Homo sapiens: one gene and its partner. Changing the gene in region 1 together with any one later gene gives a genetic interaction. Each region holds a gene or a part of one and is shown in the gene's direction. Other genes may lie near its edges.

Region 1 (9,335 bases):
AATATAAATCTGGAGTGAAAAACGTAGTATCTGAAATTAAAATTTTCCTTGGATGGACTTATCAGTAAATGGATTTCCCAATGGGAACCTGTATCTCCAGGATGGAATTAAGAATTTTGAAATGATAAACATGTTGGTAAATAAGAAAGACATTTTTCTTTTTTATTTTTCTAAATATCATTGCTGTTTAAAGCAAACAAAAATAGTATTGCAGTGTTTATAATATATGTATAAGTAAAATATAGGACAGAAATAGCATGAAGGGTCAGAGAGGGCAATAAATGTAATTATATTGAGATAATATTACTATATTGTACACAAAGTGAGATAGCATTAGTGTAAGGTAGATTGTGATAAGAATGCATTTTGTAATCTCTCACCCCATCACTGGGGTGCAGTAGATCTAAAAAGCCATTAGAGAAGATAAAATGGGTCACTAAGAATTATGTGATTAGTCAAATGAAATCAAGGAAAGAAAAACAGAGCAAAGAAGTGTAAGATAAAACAGTGGGATGGAAGAGCTGAAATTAATAATGTCACTAAATTGCTTACCTTCCTCCTTCCTGAACTGTTGTGGATTTTTTTTTTTTCAGGGGGTTGAGGTTTTTTTTTAGAGACAGAGTCTCTATTGCCCCAGGCTGGACAGCAGTGGCGTAATCAGTCTCAAAATCCCTGCAGTCTCAAACTCCTGGGCTCAAGTGATCCTCCTGCCTCGGCCTCCCAAAATGCTGGGATTACAGGCAGGCAGAGCCACCACACCCTGCCAGAACTATTGTTTTAAAGTCATTAGGTGGTTAAGCCCTCGAGACTATGTGCAAGTTTGATGATTCGTTAGGAGCACTCACAGGACTCAGCATATAGTCTTATTCCCAACAATGATTTATTAGAGCAAAAGGATATGAAGCAAATTCAGCAAAGGGAAAAAAGGAATTAAGTGAAGTCCAGAGGAAACCAAGCACCAGCTTCTAAGGGTTCTCTCCTAATGAAGTCACACAGGATGTCACTCCAGCAACAAGTGACAGCATGTGAAAGTGTTAAGCCTCACTGTTAGACATAGTAAGCTTGTTAGGGAATAGAGGGAATCTCCCCTCAAATTCAAGTTCCCAGATGCCTGGCAAGGGCCAACCTTGCCAGCAGGACTTTCTGGGGATAGCAGTCCCAGGCACGTGTTTGCACAGTGGTTCAGATCAATGTGCTTACATTGGGTAGAGGGGACCTATGGAAGTCCAAATTTGGGTGTCAGAGACCTAATAGGGTGAAGACAGTGTCTACAATGATGGACAGCTAGGTATGAGGTGTCAGGGACAGATTGAGGCAGTTATTCACATGGTGGATAGGGGCAACCTGGAATGAGGAATAAGCTCAAGCACAGAAAGGGGTGTCCATATGGGGTAAGGGTGTCAGCAGAGATGGTAGATTGGTTGCACACCAAAGACTTGATGGAATAAAGTGAATATACTAACCACAGAGAAGGTAATTATAAATACAGAAAGGGGGGAAACTAGAATGAAACCTGGAGTTCAGCTTGAATTGGGTTTAAGAAAGTGAATTCATGGTTTAAAATCTATAAAAATAGATGAAATATCGGCTGGGCACAGTGGCTCACGCATATAATCCCAGCACTTTGGGAGGCCGAGGCGGGCAGATCGCTTGAGATCAGGAGTTTGAGACCAGCCTGGCCAACACTGCGAAACCCCATCTCTAGTAAAAATACAAAAATTAGCCAGGTGTGGTGGTACACACCTGTAGTCCCAGCTACTTGGGAGGCTGAGGCACGAGAATCACTTGAACCTGGGAGGCAGAGGTTGCAGTGGGCTGAGATCGCACCACTGCACTCCAGCCTGGGCAACAGAGCGAGATCCTGCCTCAAATAAAAATAGAGGACATATAAGCATATAAATATACACGTGTGTATGTGTCCAAATATGTATATTCCCTAGTCTGTCCACCAAGGTGGCCTTGGAGCAGTTATGCTCCAATAATAATGAGCACATAAAGTACCCATATCTTGCCTTCCAAATTCTTCACTGTCTTAGTCTGCTTGGGCTGCATTACAAAATACCATAGACTGGGCAGCTTAAATAACAGAAATTTATCCTCACAGTTCTAGAAGCTTGGAAGTCCAAGATTAAAGTACCAGCCAGTTTGGTTTCTAGTGAGGGCTTTCTTCCTGGCTTGCAGATGGCCACCTTCTCACCGTGTCCTTGTATGGCAGACAGCACAAGCTCTCTGGTGTCCCTTTTTAAAAGGGCATTAATCCCATCATGACAGTCCCATCCTCATTATCTCATCTAACCCTAGGTACTTCCCAAAGGCTGAATCACCAAAGACCATCACATTGCTGGTGAAGGCTTCAACATATGAATTTGAGGGACACGAATATTCAGTCCATAACATCAACTAAAGGAACCAAGACTCTTTGATAAAATGGCTAAATTCAGGGCTGGGGCAGAGAAAATACATGAGTGTGGAACTTCTTGTGCCAGAGAGAAAAAGTGCCCAAAGATTGATGAGGATGAATCATTGAAATGACACACAGATTAAAAGGGTTCCCACTGGACAAATTTGAGCATCAAAATAAGTAATAGTAGTAATTAATTATAACCCATCAGAAGAAATAAACCATGAGCTCATGTGAATATATGAATACAAACATAAACAAATTACAAGCATAATGAGGAATGTGATATTTATATGGTTTAAAGGTACCTCTCCAGGCCGGGTGCAGTGGCTCATGCCTGTAATCCCAGCACTTTGGGAGGCCAAGGCAGGTAGATCACCTGAGGTCAGGCATTTGAGACCAGCCTGCACAACATGGTGAAACCCTGACTCTACTAAAAATACAAAAATTAGCCGGGCGTGGTGGCACGTGTCTATAATCTGCCACTGATTAGGTGTGTGATTTTCCCAAGCAGGGGATAATAGTAGTACCTATGTCAAAGGCTGTTATGAGGATTAAATGAGCTAACACATAATCGTGCTTTTTTTTTTTTTTTTTTTTTTTGAGACAGAGTCTTGCACTGTCGCCTGGGCTGGAGTGCAATGGCACGATCTCGGCCCACTGCAACCTCTGCCTCCCAGGTTCAAGTGATTCTCCTGCCTCAGCCTCCTGAGTAGCTGGGATTACAGGCTCCTGCCACCACACCTGGCTATTTTCAATAGAGACGGGGTTTCACTATGTTGGCCAGGCTAGTCTCAAAAACCTGACCTCGTGATCCACCCGCTTTGGCCTCCCAAAGTGCTGGGATTACAGGCATGAGCCACTGCACCCGGCTTTTTTTTTTTTTTTTTGAGATGGAATCTCTCTCACCCAGGCTTCATCTCAGCTCAGTGCAACCTCCGCCTCCTGGGTTCAAGCAATTCTCCTGCCTCAGCCTCCCGAGTAGCTGAGATTACAGGTGCCTGCCACCACACCCGGCTAAGTTTTATATTTTTAGTAGAGACGGGGTTTTGCCATGTTGGCCAGGCTGATCTCAAACTCTTGACCTCAAGTGATCTGCCTGCCTCAGCCTCCCAAAGTGCTGGGATTACAGGCATGAGGCACTGTGCCTGGCCTCAAATTCTTAGAATACTGCCTACCACATATTGAATGTTCATTAAATCCTAGGTATAGGACAGGGGTGTTGGCTCATGCCTGTAATGCTAGCATCTTGGGAGGCTGAGGCAGGAGGATCACTTGAGCCCAGGAGTTCCAGACCAGCCTGCGCAACATAGCAAGACCTCTCCTCTACTAAAAAAGATTACTGTGGCTGCAGTGTGGAGAACAGATTGTCGATAGATGATAATACCTACGATTTTATTTATTTTTTACTTCTTATTTATTTTTTTGAGATGAAGTGTTGCACTGTTGCCCAGGCTGGAGAGCAGGGGCACGATCTCGCCTCACTGCAACCTCTGCCTCCCGGGTTCAAGCAATTCTCCTGCCTCAGCCTTCTTAGCAGCTGGGATTACAGGCACCCGCCACTACGCCCAGCTAATTTTTTTTATCTTTAGTACAGACAGGGTTTCACCATGTTGGCCAGGCTGGTCTCAAACTCCTGACCTCGTGATTCGCCCGCCTAGGCCTCCCAAAGTGCTGGGATTACAGACGTGAGCACCACACCTACTCAGTTGTTCTGTATACCATTACATGTTCAGCAACCCTAATCCAACCATCTGAAATTAAAATGCTCCAAAATCAAAACTTTTTGATCATCAACACGATGCCACAGTGGAAAATTCCACACCTGACCGCATGTAAAAAGCTGTAGTCAAAATTTTGTTTGATACACACACAATTTTTAAAATTGCATAAAATTACCCTGAGGCTATGTGCATAAGGTGTATACGAAACATAAATGAATTTCAAGTTTAGCCTCTGGCCCCATCCCCAAGATAAAGAGCCACAATCTGAAACAGTTCTGGTCTTAAGCATTTGGGATGAAGGATACTCAACCTATACCCAGTTTTCTACACGACACTACTTATGAATATCTTTTAAAAATTTCTTTATCCCTACTTGTTTTCTGTCTTCCCTACCAGAATATAATTTTCACGAGACCAGTATCTGACAAACACACGTGCTACATATTCAATCTTTATCGAATGAATTTAATATTTTCCAAGTTTTCTATAATTAACATTACTTCTATATTATTAATTTTATAGAGAATCCAAATAGCATTTTATTAAGTAGACCATTAGTCGGTCCGAGTTCAAATTCTGCTACTACAGCAAACTATATGTAGGACTCAAGGCAAGTTTCTTTTTTTTGAGACGGAGTCTCGCGCTGTCGCCCAGGCTGGAGTGTAGTGGCGCGATCTCGGCTCACTGCAACCTCCGCCTCCTAGGTTCAAGCGATTCTCCTGCCTCAGCCTCCAGAGTAGCTGGGATTACAGGCGCGTGCCACTACGCCCGGCTAATTTTTGCATTTTTAGTAGAGCCGGGGTTTCACCATGTTGGCCAGGCTGGTCTCGAACTCCTGACCTCAAGTGATCCGCCTGCCTCGCCGCCGAAAGTGCTGGGATTACAGGAGTGAACCACCACGCCTGGCGGAGGCAAGTTTCTTAATCTTCTTTCCTCACTTGTAAAACTGGAATACTGTCCATTTTCATAAGGTTAAATCATACAACACAGGTAAAAGCGCTTCAGCACGCAACGAAATTTTTCTAACGTAACGAAAAACTCCTCGTTGCTCCTTGCCTTGCCCTTAACCTCAACGCTTCAGGTCCCGACCAATCTCTCGGAGAGCTCAGAGGGAGCCGCTCTAGCCGCCTTCCGCCACGGAGTGCAGGGACAGCCGGGAAGGGGACGGAAGCCGGAGGCCAGAGCACGCACTTCCTCCCACGCTTTCCTCACAGCCAATCGCCCACTGGTGCCCCACCCCTTCCGTTCTGGGAAAACTCGAGCACCCAGAACGGCTTCCGGCGGGAGCTGTGCAGCTCCTTATCATGGTGAGTTGGCTGTTGGGGTGAGGGTTTCGGCTGTAGCTGATTCGGTTTATCTTATTTGGTCCCGAAGCGACCTTGAAATCCCTCAGCCACCCAGAGGAGGGGTCATTGGAGTTGAAGTCGGGCCCCTTGGCAGGAGCGGCTGTCTCCCAAAATGTTCCCCTTCAGAGTTCTGGTCCCTTTCGGTCCCTCACCTGTTCCGCAGGCGCTCACGATCTAGGCCCCGCTGCAGGCAGAGCTTTCAGCTCCTGGCGAGTTTCTGACTTCCCTCTGCCGAGATTTCTTTAAGGTAATAAAAGTTTTTGCCAGCGTCAACAACTAGGCCACCAACAAAAGATCTGAAAACAAGTCCACAGCAACAACTGTAATAGTGATTCTTAGAGCAGTGGCGATAACGCCAGCGGAAAAAAAAAAAAAAGGTTAGTAATAGGGTTTTAGGGCAGACGTCTCACTCTGCAACTTGGCTTTACTAAATATTAAGTAGCCTGATTACGGCAGCAAATTTCATAAGCGCAGTAACTACAGAAAGTCAAGGTGTTGGTAGGACATTTTATTGCTGCTTTATTTCTGGGTTTGTAGAAACTAATGGAAGACCCAGTAGACGTTATGGTTGTTGGGATATGGTGTTTTCTCTCAAATTTGTTAGAATTAGTCATTCTTTGCCTTTAGAGCTCAAATATATAGCTCTGAACTTTAAAGATAAGCAGTTGGTTGGGATTTGAAGTGTCCAAGTGGCGTGTGCCTTTTGAAAATGCATTTATTAGAAAAATTTATGGAGTACTTATTGATAGCCTACGTATGAGAAAGAGACCACATTTCTGTGCCTAAGCTTTTGTCACTGTACTAAGTTTTTTACTTAAGTGGATATGGTCGGGAAAATGCCTCATTCACACACTTTATGTTTTGTAAATTTTCTGTAATCCTTTTGCACACAGAAAATGGGTAAAAGTTTACACTTTTTGGCTAATGATCAAATAGCCTTCAGTTACGCTCTTCTTCAAAACATTCACCATTGTGAAGCCTGTAGCCAGAGTTATATTTCTAAAATTTGACCACATCACTCCCTTACTCAAATTTTCTCCTTTTTTTTTTTTCTGTAGCACTCAAGATAAAGTCCTGTTTAGCATGGCATACAAAGCCACTCATTATCAAGCTTCTTACTTTTACAGCCTCTTTTTTTGTTGTTGTTTTCGAGACGGAGTTCCACTCTTGTTGCCCAGGCTGGAGTGCAATGGCGCGATCGCGGCTCACCACAACTTCCGCCTCCCGGGTTCAAGCGATTCTCCTGCCTCACCTTCCCGAGCAGCTGGGATTACAGGAATGCGCCACCACGCCTGGCTAATTTTGTATTTTTAGTAGAGACGGGGTTTCTCCATGTTGGTCAGGCTGATCGCGAACTCCTGACCTCAGGTGATCCTCCCGCCTCTGCCTCCCAAAGTGCTGGGATTACAGGCGTGAGCCACCGTGCCAGGCCACAAACTCTTTTTTTTTTTTTTTTTTTAATGCATACATGTATGCAACATCCGTATTTCAGCCACAGTGAATAGCTTGCAAATCATGCTGTATTAATTGAGCCTTTGTACCTAATTTGCATATGCTCTTCCATCCCCAGAATTGTTCTCTGTTCTCTATCGGCTGTCCTTATCAGAATAACCCTTATATATCCTTAATTATTTTTCATGAACCTTTCCCTCATGTTCCAGTATCCTCTTAGTTGCTTCTCCTTTGTGCTCTGGTGGTACCTTGTGCTTTTATATGCACAAACACACACACACACACACCAGTTTTGTTACATAAAGCTGCACAAAACGAATACATACAATAGAAACTTAACTTGCCTATAATACTGATGATTTGAAGGGAGTTGAAGATAAAGGGATAAGAGACTTAAAATTCAGAGGTCTTTCAGATTATACACCTTCATTAACTCACAGCCCTAATTTAAGAAAGTAAAACTTGAATCTCTTGTGTTTTTTACCAGTAACATCTGTAATCCTTACAGACGATGTTAAAGTTGTGTACTTATTTGTCTTTCTCACTTTCTAGACTGTAAGCTCATTGAGAGCAGGACCTATGTATTTCACCCTAATTCCCAGAGCTTTGTAGCGTGCCTGGCCCAGAGGAAGTTTTCAATAAACATCTGTTTTATAAGACACTGAAAACTTATGGCACTATATCTTTATGCTTGAAACATTAGTATTAGTCATGCAGGGAAACAGTATTTAAGGTTTATTTTAAAGGATATTGAGAAAAGGTTTTGCGTTTATTAAGAACATGCTATGTGAAAACAGTACTTTCTTAGAAAATATAAAGAAAAATACAAATAAAACGTCTGTTTTATAAAGCACTGAAAACCTATGGCACTATATCTTTATGCTTGAAACATCAGTATTAGTCATGCAGGGAAACAGTATTTAAGGTTTATTTTTTAAAATAAATATTTTAAAATAAAATATTGAGAAAAAGGTTTTGTGTTTATTAACATGCTGTGTGAAAACAGTGCCTTCTTAGAAAATATAAATAATATAAATATATAATATTAAAAATATAAGTATATAAAAACAAAATATAAAGGAAAATAGCCCTTGTCATTAGTGAAGTTACTAAAATTACAAAGCAATGTAACAAGTTGAAGGCTTTACTTTGGTTAATGCAAAATAAGTGGCATAAAAAACACTATAGTTTGGAATGATCTAGGAAGACTTCATTTAAGAAGTGAAACATGAAACTAAGTACTTTGTGCCCCACTCTAATACTCTTAATCTAATACTTGTTTGTCATTATATGAATAAGAGCTTGGGTTAGACAGATCTGGCCTTTTCACGCAAGAGTGGTCATGAGACAAAAGAGTAGACCAGTTTAACTGAAGTTGAGGGTTTCTATCTGGAGTAAGAGATAAGACTGGAAAGAAACAGGCTAAGTCATTGAAAACCTGGAAATTCAGGTTGTAAAATTTGTAGTTTATTCTGATAGCAATGGCGAGCCAATATAATTTTGGGAAGAGTGATATGACATTAGGATTTTTGTTTTATTTTCATTGTCAGGATGGCATCAGAAGTGGCTTTCTGCCTCTTAGAAACCTTGTTGATTCTCTTAACCTGAAACTTAAAGTTGGCTAGGGTTAAACAGAAGATGTCCAAAATAACAGTATTAAGGAGAATTTTTTAAATCTTTGGAACCAAAATAACTCACACATAATTCTTTAAGAAAAGAATATATATACATATGTACATACACATATATATAATATTTATACATATGTACATTTATTTATGTATTTATTTATTTATTTCGAGATGGGGTCTCGCTCTGTTGCCCAGGCTTGAGTAAAGTGTGAACCTGGCTCACTGCTTGACTTCCCGGGCTCATGCGATCCTTCCACCTTGGTGTCCTGAGTAGCTGGGACTACAGGCATGTACCACTATGCCTGGCTAATTTTTTTCTTTTCAATTTTTTTGTAGAGACAGGGTCTCAGTATATTTCCTAGGCTGGTCTTGAACTCCTGGGCTCAACTGATCCTCCTGACTCAGTCACCCAAAGTGGTGGAATTACAGGCATGAGCCACCATGGCCAGCCAAGAAAAAGATATATTTATTGGCTGGGTGCGGTGGCTCACGCCTGTAATCCCAGCACTTTGGGAGGCCAAGGCGGGCGGATCACGAGGTCAGGAGATCAAGACCATCCTGGCTAACACGGTGAAACCCCGTCTCTACTAAAGGTAAAAAAAAATTAGCCGGGCGTGGTGGTGGGTACCTGTAGTCCCAGCTACTCCTTCACCGCAGAATGGGGCTGCGACAGAGTGAATATCCTGTTTGCCGTGTAGCCTATATTTAAAATCAGACTGTCCTCCTCAAAAGCAGCTGGAACTGAGGTTCAAGAGATGGATGTGACTGTGTATAGGGAGAG
Region 2 (7,968 bases), on another chromosome or scaffold:
GTCAGGAAATGGAGTCAAGCCATAGACTGTTGGCATGGAGGGAGCCCTTCCCTAACTTATACTACAGGGAGGAAGTTTGATGGGCAATAGGAAGCAAGAAGGAAGGGAAAAAAGCTTAGGACTTTTAACAGAAAGGTAGGATCATCAATTCTGATTTCCTCCAGAAGTAGACTAGTCCCCTCATGTCCCCAGGAAAAAAAAAAAAATCCTTTTCCTTTTTTTTTTTTTTTCCTGTCGCCCAGGCTGGATTGCTGCAGTGGCACAATCACAGCTCACTATATCCTCGACTTCCTGGGTTCAAGCAATCCTCCCACCTCAGCCTCCCAAGTATTTGAGACTATAGGCATGCACCACTGCACTTGGCTACTTTTAAAAAATCTTCTGTAGAGATGGGGTCTCTCTGTGTTGCCTGGGCTGGTCTCAAACTCCTGGCCTCAAACAGTCCTCCCACCTTAGCCTCCCAAAGCACTAGGATTACAGGCATGAGCCATCACGCCCAGCCCTTTTCTTCAAAGAGAATCACTTACCTAAAATTGCCTTGTGTAATGCAGAGCAGGCTAGGCAAAGCCAGCAGACTAGTTGTTTTATAGCAGTCTCACTCTCCTCCTGGCCTTCCCCAGGCACAGCTTTGGTCCCCTATGGTCTTCCCTGCATCCGCGAGCTCTTCCGCTTCCTCATCTCCCTCACCAATCCACACGACCGCCATAACTCAGAGGTTATGATTCACATGGGACTGCATTTGCTGACAGTGGCCCTTGAGTCAGCCCCTGTAGCCCAGTGCCAGACCCTCTTGGGCCTCATCAAGGATGAGATGTGCCGTCACTTATTCCAGGTAAGACAAGATTGCTAGAGGGTCTCAGAGCCTCTTTCAAGGGCCAGGGGAACACAGGGAGGTCTGGCTGATTACGCAAAGAGTATAGGACCTAGGAAAGCATCTCCCTCCCAGTTGGCTAGTAGTTTTAGTAAGAGGGTTCCAGTAGTTCCCCAGGGACTCTGGCAGCCAGAGAGAAATATAGGAATGGCTAGATGTAGAGTTCCCTGGAAGCAATGGACCTCAGTGACACCTTCACTCAGTTTGCCTCTTCTGCCTCTCTTGGTTGAGCCATAGTCAGCTTCAGAAACCTCACAGCCGGGCTGGGTGCAGTGGCTCACGCCTGTAATCCCAGCACTTTGGGAGGCCAAGGCGGGCGGATCACGAGGTCAGGAGATTGAGACCAGCCTGACCAATGTGGTGAAACCCAGTCTCTACTAAAAATATCAAATTAGCTGGGCATGGTGACGTGCGCCTGTAATCCCAGCTTCTTGGGAGGCTGAGGAAGGAGAATATCTTAAACCCAGGAGGCAGAGGTTGCAGTGAGCTGAGATTGCGCCACTGCACTCCAGCGTGGGCAACAGAGTGAAACTCCGCCTCAAAAAAAAAAAAAAAAAACTCATGGCCTACCCTGCTCTCATCTCCAGCTACTCAGCATAGAGCGACTAAACCTTTATGCTGCTTCCCTGCGAGTATGCTTCCTACTGTTTGAGAGCATGCGAGAGCACCTCAAGTTCCAAATGGAGGTGAGTTTCTTGATGTGGAAAGAAAAGGGGGAAAAAAAATAGGGAGATATATGGCATCTTCAGTGGGGCCAGCTCTATCATGCTACAGGGGTAGGATTTAGGGACTTCCTATAGGAGAGTCCTTTTAGCCTCCAGAGTTCGGTTCAATCAACTGGCCTCTTTTGTGGAAAAGTTAAAAGGAGACCAAAGGAAACTGGCTGACCCCAAATATGAGAACTGCCAGGTAACCTTACCATGAATAGGGACAGCTCTTCTGCCCAGCAGTTACTCTGCAACACAGGTAGGTAAGTCAAGCCAGCATTGTCACTAAATTGCTAAAAGGAACTCTAAATAGGACCAGGTCATGTTCACATAGCACAAAAGGGCAAGAGGCAACTTGTCTGGGACCAGGTATGTGGTAGAGAGCCAGGCCTTATCCCCCAACATGGAGGCCAAAGAAGAGATATATTTAGGGGATGGAATACCTTTGGGTGTCTCTTAATACATGCCTCTAGGCTGGGCTTCTGCATCCTGTTTAATGTTTTTCCTGTCTAATTTTTTCTCTTCCTATCTTGAATCCTTTCCCCACCCAAATGGCAATTACTGGGTTATTGCCAGATGTACATCAAAAAGCTTATGGAGATCATCACTGTGGAGAACCCCAAGATGCCTTATGAGATGAAGGAGATGGCACTGGAGGCCATTGTGCAGCTCTGGCGCATCCCCAGCTTTGTCACAGAGCTCTACATCAACTATGATTGTGACTACTACTGTTCCAACCTCTTTGAGGAACTCACAAAGCTGCTGTCCAAGGTGCTGAGCACTATAACTGGCTTCTAGGAAAAAACGCATTATAAAGGAAATCTCCCTGGTGGTAGTGAGGATGTTACATACAGAGAGGGGAACACTTGAGAGCTGGGAAATAGAAGAAAGGCATTTTCTTTTCTTTTCTTTTTTTTTTTTTTTTTTTTTTTTGAGATGGAGTCTCACTCTGTTGCCCAGGCTGGAGTGCAGTGGCGCGATCTCGGCTCACTGCAAGCTCCACCTCCCGGGTTCACACCATTCTCCTGCCTCAGCCTCCCGAGTAGCTGGGACTACAGGTGCCCACCACCACGCCCGGCTAATTTTTTGTATTTTTAGCAGAGACGGGGTTTCACCATGTTAGCCAGGATGGTCTCGATCTCCTGACCTTGTGATCCACCCGCCTCGGCCTCCCAAAGTGCTGGGATTACAGGCATGAGCCACCACGCCCGGCCAGAAAGACGTTTTCTAAGGGCAATGTACAAGTTAGAAGAAGTTTTGGAAATTTTAGAAAATGATCAAAGTGTAAAGTGTTCTCCTAACTACAAGTCCAATTGATCTGTTTACTTTCCAGAATGCCTTCCCTGTGTCTGGTCAACTCTATACAACACACCTACTATCTCTTGATGCCCTATTGACAGTGATTGACAGCACCGAGGCCCACTGCCAGGCTAAAGTCCTCAACAGCCTCACCCAGCAAGAGAAGAAGGAGACAGCCAGACCAAGCTGTGAGATAGTAGATGGCACCCGAGAAGCTAGCAATAGTGAGAGGCATTTCTTTCTTTGATGAACCCAGTGTTCTATGCTTATCCCTTCTCTACTCTCTGAGTCGTTTTTCCTGTCCCCATATCACTTCCCCTGGGATGCTCCCAATTCTGTTTCTGGGCTTTGGCAGTTTAAATCACAGGCCAGTCAGGCAGATTAGTAGAACTCATAGCCTTCTCCCTTTTTCCTCCTCCCCACTTTGGTTTTTTACAGAATTATTATTTCTTTATGGCAAGAGAAGAGAACAGAGATTAAAGAATATAGGATTTCTGTCTCTGAAAGCTCCAGGTCCCACCATCCCTCATCCCCAATATCTGCCTCCACTCTAATTAGTCCTCTCTAGCTCCCCCTTGAAATTTGAGGTTGCAGAAGATCAGGGAAAGTGACTGGGTAATCTCTTCATTAAATTAGAGAATCTAATGCTTGGCTGGGACAGGGACTACTTATTTTGGCTTGGGTTTGTCCTGCTCAGGGCTGGCGCCCTGTGCAGGAACCATGCAGGTCTTCTGGGCTTGGGATTTGATCTATCCTGCAGCTCTGCTTGGCTTCATACCCTATAAGTCTTCACGTATCTTCTTCTCTCTTACCAGCTGAGAGAACTGCCAGCGATGGGAAAGCTGTAGGCATGGCCTCAGACATCCCAGGCCTGCATCTGCCAGGTGGAGGGCGGCTGCCACCAGAACATGGGAAATCAGGATGCAGTGATCTGGAGGAAGCTGTTGACTCTGGGGGTGGGTACTGGGTGTCCATGACCCTAAGCTCCTCACCTGGAGGGCCTGGTGAAGAGCAGAGGGAGGGAGCAGACACCTAGGATAGTAACTAAGCAAGCCTTGGTAGCCCGCCTCGCCTTCAGACTCAGAGAGAGGGAAGCAAACATATGGACCCTCAGTTGATAGGACTTCCAGGGAAGTGGAAGACTGGTGAGGACAAGATTTCTGAGGCTCCTTCTTGAAACTGGGGAGTATATTGGTGACCTTCCAAAAGTCCTTATCTGGGTAAAAAAAGGTGTTACAGATATTTCCCCCCTCTTCTTCCTACTCCTAGCTGACAAAAAGTTTGCCCGGAAGCCACCCCGATTTTCCTGTCTCCTGCCAGATCCACGGGAACTAATTGAAATTAAAAACAAAAAGAAGGTACATACATGTATTCCCCAGCCTCTGTCCACCTCTGTCTGGGTGTCCAGTGTTGTAGGGTTTCCATCTCAGAAGATGAAGGAGAGTCTAGCACCTCATTGTACAGCTTCCTGAGGCCAGTCTTTGGGCTTGTTGGGACTTCAGCAACTCCCATTTGAAGCCCTTCCCTTACTCCTAAGCTATGTAGTTGAGCATACCCTATGTATGCCCCTGCGCAAATGCTGTACCAGTTGAGAGCCAAGTGTCACTAGTGGCAGTGACAGGAGCCTTGGGAGTTGGTGTCTTGTGGGTCATTGAAGGTTACTGTCATCTCCAGCTCTTGCAAGATGATTGGCAATAAAGGGAAATTGATATTCATTCTGGTGCTTTAGTAAGGTTCAAATAGTAAGGTTCAAATAACTGTTTGTACTTTGGATTTCTTTTTTTTTTTTTTTTTTTTTTTTTCAGACGGAGTCTCTCTCTGTTGCCTAGGCTGGAGTGCAGTGGCATGATCTCAGCTCACTGCAACCTCCACCTACCGGGTTCAAGCAATTCTTCTGCCTCAGGCTCCCAAGTAGCTGGGACTACAGGCGTGTGCCACCATGCCTGGCTAATTTTTTGTATTTTTAGTAGAGACGGGGTTTCACCGTGTTAGCCAGGGTGGTCTTGATCTCCTGACCTCGTGATCTGCCCACCTTGGCCTCCCAAAGTGCTGGGATTACAGTCGTGAGCCACCATGTCTGGCCTGTACTTTGGGTTTCTTAACACAAAGAAAACCTAACCCTTTCTGGCCGGGCGCAGTGGCTCACGCCTGTAATCCCAGCACTTTGGGAGATCGAGGTGGGCAGATCACCTGAGGTCAGGAGTTTGAGACCAGCCTGGCTAACACGATGAAACCCCGTCTCTACTAAAAATACAAAAATTAGCTGGGCATGGTGGTGCATGCCTGTAATCCCAGCTACTCGGGAGACTGAGGCAGGAGAATCAGTTGAACCTGGGAGGCAGAGGTTGCAGTGAGCTGAGATCACGCCACTGCACTCCAGCCTGGGCAACAGAGTGAAACTCCATCTCGGAAAAAGAAAAAAAAAACCTAACCCTTTCTTTCTCTTATTGCCAGCTTAAATGACTTTGGTTCATGTGTGCCCTTGAGTACCTGGCCGTGACTGGACATACAGAAATATGAGTTGCCTCCACAGTTAGTCCACTTTGTCTTTCAAACCCAGGGCATTAAGCTAGGCAACCAAAGAAGCTAAGCTAGGCTAAAAACAAGAGGCTGGCTATCAACAAATGTCAGGGATGGATATAAAACTGGAGAGAAGAATTACCTAGTTTCTTTCTTCTACTTTTCCCCCAATCCTAAGTTAGAGAAGAGGAACTGTTTTATGTATCTTGAGCACTCAGGAAAGGAGTAAAAAAGAGCTCGTAAGCCAATTCAATTAGACATGAAGATGGGGGAAGCTAAGGCCATTATGATCTAGCCTTAGTTCTGTAATCACTAAGAACCACATCCTAGGAGCTTTTTAGCTGACCAACTGTGGGTGGGCTATGGTGGACTCCAGGCTGGCCTTGTCTAATTTAGAGGCAAAGTAGCTTCTATACCTCTAGTTTTTCTCATGCAGCTGCTAATCACTGGCACAGAGCAGTTCAATCAGAAACCAAAGAAGGGGATTCAGTTTCTGCAAGAGAAAGGCCTCCTCACCATCCCAATGGACAACACAGAGGTTGCTCAGTGGCTCCGAGAGAACCCTCGGCTGGACAAGAAGATGATTGGAGAGTTTGTGAGTGACCGCAAAAACATTGACCTGTTGGAGAGCTTTGTGAGGTGAGGAAGCTGTAAGAAATGTGGGATATAGCCAGGTATGGTGGCTCATGCCTGTAATCCTGACACTTTGGGAGGCTGAGGCAGGCAGATCACTCGAGCTCAGGAGTTCAAGACCAGCCTGGGCAACATGGTGAAACCCTGTCTCTACAAAAAATACAAAAATTAGCTGGGCATGGTGGCATGTGCCTGTAGTCCCAGCTGTTCAGGAGGCTGAGGCAGGAAGATCACTTGAGTCTGGGAGTTCGAGGCTGCAGTGAGCTGTGATCATGCCACTGTGATAGAGTGAGATAGAGTGAGATAGAGTGAGATCATGCCACTGTGATAGAGCTGTGATAGAGTGAGACCTTGGCTCAAAAAAAAAAAAGGTGGGACATGGTTAGTGATCAGTTTAAAGGGACAGAACATCCCTACCTCAAAGCGGTCTCTATAAATTTCTTCTGGAGACCCTAGCCAATGTTCTTCCTCTACCCATCATTTATATCTATTGGACCTGAAAGGGACTCCAACGAGATAGTTTGGGGAGCCCCCTCCATTCTGCATGGAGTCCATTCCAAAGGGGTAGAGCAGGGTTCCAGGGGGTGAGGGTTCTAGGCAAGAGTCCGTGGATGTGAAAAGTATTAAGGCTAGGGGTTGTGTTAGGGATGAACAGGAGATACTGCCCCTTTACTAGAGACCTCAGCCTCCTCTCTTCCAGTAAGAGTAGGTTAGGAGGACAGTGACTAAAAGAGCCTGACATGTGCAGCTTACACATTTTCAGCCTCTTCTTCCTTTCTTTCCCTATAGCACCTTCAGTTTTCAGGGTCTGCGACTGGACGAAGCCCTCCGCCTCTACCTGGAAGCCTTCCGTTTGCCTGGGGAAGCACCAGTCATCCAGAGGTTGCTGGAGGCATTCACAGAGCGTTGGATGGTGAGTTTGAGTGTCAGGGGCTGAGCCCAGGATCCAAGGTCAGTTTGACTGAGGGCTGAAGAATCCAGCTGCTGTCTCTTTTTTTTTTTTTTTTTTTTGAGACAGAGTCTCGCTCTGTCACCCAGGCTGGAGTGCAGTAGCGCAGTCTCAGCACACTGCAACCTCCACCCCCCGGGTTCAAGCAATTCTCCTGCCTTAGCCTCCTGAGTAGCTGGGATTTCAGGCACCTGCCACCAAGCCTGGCTAATTTTTGTATTTTTAGTAGAGATGGGTTTTGCCATGTTGGTCAGGCTGGTCTCGAACTCCTGATCTCGGGTGATCCGCCCACCTCGGCCTCCCTGAGTGCTGGGATTACAAGCGTGAACCACCGCACCCAGCCTGCTGTCTCTTAAAAAGTCAGAGAGCAAAATTAGTGACCTTTCCACAAAGAGATCAGCTTCTGTTAAGGAGTTGGCAAGAGACTGGCCACTTTCTGGATGGTACCTCTCCTCTGTACTAGCACTGACCAGTGGGTTGGTAGTGAGGGTTTAATTGGCCAGAGAAGGGCATTGACACAGGCGGGATCTTTGCTTTTTCAGAATTGTAATGGCTCCCCATTTGCCAATAGCGATGCCTGCTTTTCCCTGGCCTATGCTGTCATCATGCTTAATACTGACCAGCACAACCACAATGTTCGTAAACAGAATGCACCCATGACCCTGGAGGTAAGCTTGGGTCCCAGTCAAGGCAAAGAAGACCCAGCACAGCTTGGGAGGTAGCAGGAAGGACATAGGATTTCCAGTGGGCATGATGGATGGGGTTCTGTCCAAGGGAATCAGGAAGGGCTGGCCAACCTAGAAAAGGGACTGGGGTGGGGAAGTGGGTTTTTTCGCTTACCTTTTCCTAAGTCCTATTTACTGAAAACCCAGGAGTTCCTTAGGTGGGGCTTCAGTGTTGACACAAGGGGAAAAAACTTACTGGCCTGTCTCTAGGAGTTTCGCAAAAATCTGAAAGGTGTGAATGGAGGCAAGGACTTTGAGCAAGAC

What was found. Genes that interact genetically often act in the same process or in processes that back each other up.
Region 2: changes in SLC30A6 (region 1) and GBF1 together harm fitness less than expected from each alone (positive genetic interaction), as found in Homo sapiens cells (one study listed by BioGRID).

What each region holds. Positions count from the first base shown.
Region 1 is NC_000002.12:32,160,472-32,169,806, forward strand, and holds the start of SLC30A6 (zinc transporter 6), read left to right. Parts: upstream 1-5,392; 5' UTR 5,393-5,429; coding exon 5,430-5,432; exon of another isoform or gene 5,433-5,718; intron 5,719-9,335. UniProt on the Homo sapiens protein: Has probably no intrinsic transporter activity but together with SLC30A5 forms a functional zinc ion:proton antiporter heterodimer, mediating zinc entry into the lumen of organelles along the secretory pathway.
Region 2 is NC_000010.11:102,359,564-102,367,531, forward strand, and holds part of GBF1 (Golgi-specific brefeldin A-resistance guanine nucleotide exchange factor 1), read left to right. Parts: intron 1-620; coding exon 621-832; intron 833-1,458; coding exon 1,459-1,557; intron 1,558-2,154; coding exon 2,155-2,349; intron 2,350-2,911; coding exon 2,912-3,101; intron 3,102-3,692; coding exon 3,693-3,833; intron 3,834-4,146; coding exon 4,147-4,235; intron 4,236-5,833; coding exon 5,834-6,036; intron 6,037-6,819; coding exon 6,820-6,943; intron 6,944-7,521; coding exon 7,522-7,647; intron 7,648-7,914; coding exon 7,915-7,968. UniProt on the Homo sapiens protein: Guanine-nucleotide exchange factor (GEF) for members of the Arf family of small GTPases involved in trafficking in the early secretory pathway; its GEF activity initiates the coating of nascent vesicles via the localized generation of activated ARFs through replacement of GDP with GTP.